Regions from separate parts of the Homo sapiens genome. Here region 2 is linked to region 1. The links come from fine-mapping of genetic effects on gene expression. Tissue or cell type: cerebellum. Region 1 holds a variant in brackets; the other region holds the start of a gene. All regions are shown on one strand. Distances are from middle to middle.

Region 1 (2,752 bases):
CAAATCATTTTAGACATAAAAATGTACAGTTCTTGCTTGTTATATAGACTGAGTTTGATTCCCTTTGGAAGCCTTACCCCAGGATAGGGGTTTGGTTAGAAAAGGGAGACCCAACACACACAGATGTGCCTCCAGAGCCCCCTCCTACACACACCTAATTCTCAGACACCCCCCACAGCTGTGCCAGAGACACTGCTCTGCAAGCGCGCTCATTTCTCCTGTGAAGACGGGACTGGGCTTTCTTAGAGCAGGGCAGAGAGCAAGGGAGGCCTTGCCAAGTTTGCCACGTGGTGTGTGAGAATTCTACCAGGATGCACAATTCATTTAACTGTAGCTGGGACGCGAGCACGTGTCGGGTATGAGTCCCCAGCGCTTATGTGACCTCTGACCTGCACGTGTGTGTGCTGGAATGTTAGTGTTCGGTTTGCCTGGGGTATTTATTTCTTAGCTAAGGATTTTTGCCATTTATAAGGCTCCAGAGTGGACACAATCCCTCTGTCCTTCCCCACACAGAGGTAATTCTGCAAAAAAGAGAAGTGTATTTACTACTGACACAAAGTGATTCATGGGGTCAACACATAGCAAGCTACCTCTGAGAGGCCTGGGAGACAGACAGACAGATAGACAGGAAGACCCACATAGAGTAAGAAAAGGCCTCTTAAAAATAGAAAAAGGGGAGAGAGGTGACTAGGACAGGAAGAGCCCTGGATGGGGAATAGGACGAGTAGTGTTCAGCTTCCAGCTGCACAATTTACTGCTGTGTGTCCCTGGGAAATTCACTCACCCTCTCTGAGCCTCTCTTTTCTTAACTTGGAAGATGGTGTGTGGAATAACCCCTGCTTTGATGATCTTAAGGGGCCTCTGTGAGGACTGAGATTTTTGCCTGTACAATGCTTTATAACCATAGGGTTTGTGAATTACTGCTGTATACAGGGCTGTCTAAAAGTAAAGGGCTGACATTATTATTTATCATCCAAAGAATGAAGAGTGGTGGCAACACAGGGGGCAGCAGGTTGGCCCACACCTGCAACGGATGCCGGCCCACCTCCCCACCCCACTGCCTCCACTCAAGGTTGGGGCAGTGGGGGACAGGGCGTGGGGCAGCGGACTCAGTGTCGGGAGGAGCAGTTGCTAGCAGCCAGAGAGCTGGGCCCCGGAATAGCAAGCTTTGGGGAGAAGGAGCAGGCACGGCCCTGACCTGCCTGCAGCGAGCTCGATCTCCAGGTGGTGTAGGAAGATGGATTTGCTGAACTCAAAATCAAGACGGAAAGCCACCTGCAAGGAAGCAGTCGCATGTCTGGGCATTGCTGGGACCAGCCCCGCCCACTCCCCACAGCCCACTCCCCACAGCCCCCTGCTGGCTTGGGGAGAGGGAGCTTGCTGGGGGTTGGGGAGCTGCTGGCTGGGAACAGGCTGGGAAAGGGAGGACCAGGTGCTACAGAACATGAGCTGAGCTTCAGGGCTGCTGTGGGGACACAGCCAAAGACAACAGCTCCCACAATGGGGTTTCT[C/T]GGGGCTGAGCCAGCCCCCCTCCCTCTTCCTCTTCTTTTGTTTTTAGCAAAAGGCAACCAGAAAGCAGCAAGTCCAGCTCCAGACTCTGTCTGCAGGGTTTTTAGGGTAGGGGTCCTTGATGGCAGGAAGGGCCGATGGCCATCGCCATGCACCACAGGATGTGGGGGCCAGAAACGTTTGGTAGGACTGCCTTGTCCACCTCTTCTTTGTGTGTGGCAGGGAGGAGATGGCCCAGAGAGGGATGAGGGCCAGTGGCCACCCAGCAGGCCAACAAGGCATCCGCCCCTTGTCTGGCAGCGCTTCTGCCACACTGCTGACCTGGGCCCTGATACTCCCCTTGCCCTTCGCCCCGCGGTGGGGAAACATGCGACCCTCCTCGCCTCCTCCCTGCCCCACCTGGGGGCATTACTGAGGCTTTGCACAGACCCCTGATGCGCTCCCTGGTCTCACCCTCACGAGGTTTCCCAGGAGACCTCAGCGGCCCCTTCTCTGCAGGAGTGGCTGGGCGTGGGTGGGGAAGCCTGGGCTATGTCCTGCTCCATCCCCACTCCAGAGCTCCTGGGTTTGTCGGTGCCTCAACCCAGAAACCACACCTTTGACTTATATCTCACCAGGGAGGTGCTTTGCTAAGGAGCCCTCATCCCCACTCCCATTTCTTTCTCTTTCCCCAGCTGTGCAGACCCTGCTCCTGGGAGCACTGCTGCCGCCTACTGGCTCCTGCCACAGCTCCTCTCTGATTCCCAAGTCCACGCAGCTTGGCCTCAATTAGGTCTCCTACTCCAGAACCTTCTATGGCTGCCTGCTGCCCAGGGCTGATGTCCAAACACTCCCTGCAATCTGGCGTCTCCCTCCCTTTCCCAGCTACTTTGCTTCTCCCTTCACATACCCACCCTCTATTCACATGAGCTTTTAAGCACAGTTGGGTGGTAGGTACTCACGAAATGGTAGTTTCTCTCCCCATCCCTCCTCATACACAGCACAGTGGCAGAGGCCAGAAATTTGAAAAACTTGTGAGGCTGCAGAACAGTGGGACTGGCTAAGGGCAGGTGGCAGACTAGTGGCTGGGAGTGGTAGGAATTCTCTCTGAGTTAAAGGATGGGCTGCTAGCATGGGGATGGCTGGCTCATTTGGTCACTTGAATGTAATTTTGTGGGAGAAAAGACAAATAAAAGCCACCTCAGGCCTCCCATCCCTCCCTGGTCTTCTGTGTTCACTCTTGTTGCTCTTGCCGCCCTCCCCA
Region 2 (2,500 bases), 120 kb after region 1:
CAGAGGCCCTTTCAACCATGGGCCCTCTGAGAAGCTCCTCTGTAGGCCGACAGGAGGGTGGACTTGCTTCGCGTGGTACCCGGGGACTGGGGCAAGCGGCTGCGGGATAGGGGTCTCCACCTGAGCTCCCTGAGGGCACCTCTCCCACTACCACCGCATCTGACCCCCACTACTGGCCCCAGCTCGGGCCTGGAGCCCACGCAGAAGGGGAGGCAAGGTTGAGCGCCCACACCCGGCCAGTAACCGAGGCGCTGGCCCTTGCCGGAGCACTTGGCCGTCTTCCGCAGAACAGCATCACTGGCAGCCGCCCCGCGTGGAGGGTGGAGCCGGGGAGCCCGGTGTGGGACGGCCGGGGCCAGGGTACCCTAGGGCGGAGAGCTCAGGGCTGGCTTCCCGCTCCCAGCCGCGCGCCCCTCGGGCCGGAGGTTCCTGCCGCGCCCCGACACCTGGAGTGCATTAGGCGGCGGCGCGCGTCTAGGCGACGGCGGCTTTCCCCAGATTATTGAATAATTGCATAATTCCGAGCGCGGGTTGGGAGGCAATGCCGGGTCCCTACCCCGGGTGTCAGGTAACGTTTCGGGGGTCCTGCGCTGCGCGACTGTGTCCCGCCGCTGCTGGCCGGGCAGACGAGAGCTAGCCCCCGCCTACCGGCCATCGCCCCGGGGCTTTGCTCTGTCTTTGGCCGGAGGCACTCTGCGCAGCCCTCACCCCCACCCTTCAGCCCTCCGGGGCCGCCGCGCCCGGCTCTCCAAACTTTGAGATGCTTCCCCGGAGCCAGGCAGGAGGGCAGCCAGGGCACACTCTCTTGGCGCTGATTCCCTTCCCCAGCCGGGGCCGTGCGCCCTCGGCGCTCCCGGGACACCCGAGTGCCCCTGGCAGCCGTGCGGGAACCCCGGCATGGGCCTTGGAGGCACCTAAGGCGCCCAGGAGGGCCACCAGATCTGGGAGCTTTTCAACTCAAGCCTCTTCAACTCTTCCCAAACACACCAAAGAGTCCCGGCTTTCAATAGCCTTCGCACCTCCCTCTTTAGCGAAACTTGACTGAACCGCTAGACTGGGGCCAGTCCCTGGGGGACCCACGTCCCCAAGAGCAGCTGAGGTCTGACCCTGGGAGGAGGGTCGCGTCCCGATCCTGGCCGCTGGATCCAAGCCCCGAGGGCCCAGGGAGGGACTCCGAGAGGCAAGGGGAGGCAGAGGGTGGGCACCTACCTGGCCACAGGCTGAGCGCCCAGGCCACCACCAGGCCCCTGGGCAGGTCCATGGCCCGCGGCACGGCGGCTGGGTCCGGTGTGCAGCGGCGGCGGGGGGCGGCAAGCCAGAGCGGCAGCCTCCTCGGCGCGGCGCCTGCAGCCTGCACTGCGCGGGGCGCCGGGCTCCCTGACAGCTGCGGCTCATTCAGAGGAAGTGGGAGGGCTCGAGCGGAGGGGAGGGGCGCCGGACACCACTCCGGCTCGGGCTCTGGGCCAGTCTCGGCCGCTCTGCCACCTGGGCAGGCGGCGCGCTGCCTCGACGCGCCTGTGCAGCGCTCCTTCTCCGCCAACCCCACGTCAGCCTCTGGAGAAAACTCCAGAGAACCGCTCCTGGGAACCCCCTCACCAGTGTAGCACCGCACCGCCTCAGTCAGATTCTGTTCAGGAAAAGTGGTTTTTATTCCCATTTCCCAGTGAAAAGAGATTCACAAAACTCAGAGGGTACCCAAGCTGGCTCAGGAACACCTGCTGGAACGCAGGTCTCCCTTGGCCAAGTGAGTGGATGTCCCTCAAAGGTCCATTCTAAGACATCCCCGTGTCTCCCTGCACCCTGCGGCTTGAATTGTAGAGGCTAGTGTTTCTTCTGACCCTGGAATACATGCAGATTCGCCTCCACTGCCACTCCCTGAGCCTCCACACCTGAGGCATTCCAAAGCACCCAGGGACACCGTGCACCCCCTCTTAACCTAACGTGAAGCTCTTCTTTGTAACCCTGCCACCTTCTTTCCCTCTTCTAATCACTGGTAGTTAAATTCAATGCACATTTATCTCAAGAGCTTTAAATCCAGGCCCCGGACCTCCACCGCGCTTGTGGAGGCTTTTCCAGCAATGGAGGAAGCCGAGGCAGAGGGTAGGAAGGCCAAGATGCAGGGAAAGCCACAGCAGAGCGCCCTTCCCCCACTTTCTCAGGAAAGGCTTCCTTCACCCCCTCTTCCCGTCCCCACCAGGTTGAGTCCCAGACACATGCTGATATTCCCCAGCCCGCTCTCCCTCATTTCTCTTCATTGTGCTTAGTAGAGAAGCAAGGCATCAATTGGTGTGATCATTTAACTTTTCTCTCCTGTGCAGACTGAAAACACCATCAGGGTAGAAATCTCTGGTTCACAATGGAGTACTCAGCCCCTAACACCCAGGAACAAAGTAGGTGGGCGGGTGGATGGATGGGTGAGTACAGGTGGTGTGTGGGTGCACAAAGGATAGAGTTTTCTATCTGGGAGGTATTGGAAGGGCTTCCCAGAGGAGGTGATGTT

Alleles and levels. Positions count from the first base shown, and alleles are read on the strand shown. Sizes are in standard deviations (SD) of each study's normalised expression.
With allele C in place of T in region 1, the expression in cerebellum of the gene that starts at base 1,358 in region 2 is lower (large effect, 1.7 SD a copy in GTEx).

Evidence for each region. PIP is the estimated chance that this variant, and not a neighbour inherited with it, causes the effect.
Region 2: it holds the start of ITGA11, and the variant in region 1 is fine-mapped to the expression of ITGA11 in cerebellum (GTEx, PIP above 0.99). The same link has a PIP of 0.9 or more in cerebellar hemisphere.

What each region holds. Positions count from the first base shown.
Region 1 is chr15:68,314,453-68,317,204 of GRCh38, forward strand. It overlaps ITGA11 (integrin subunit alpha 11), which reads right to left. Exons shown (of 30, transcript NM_001004439.2): 22 at 1,199-1,275. Among named protein-coding and RNA genes, the nearest start is that of FEM1B, 38 kb to the left of the region's middle. RefSeq lists an enhancer at 612-1,478. The variant C/T (reference allele first, on the strand shown) is at 1,512.
Region 2 is chr15:68,430,806-68,433,305 of GRCh38, forward strand. ITGA11 (integrin subunit alpha 11) reads right to left here and starts at 1,358. Exons shown (of 30, transcript NM_001004439.2): 1 at 1,210-1,358. The coding sequence starts at 1,261. RefSeq lists an enhancer at 1-518.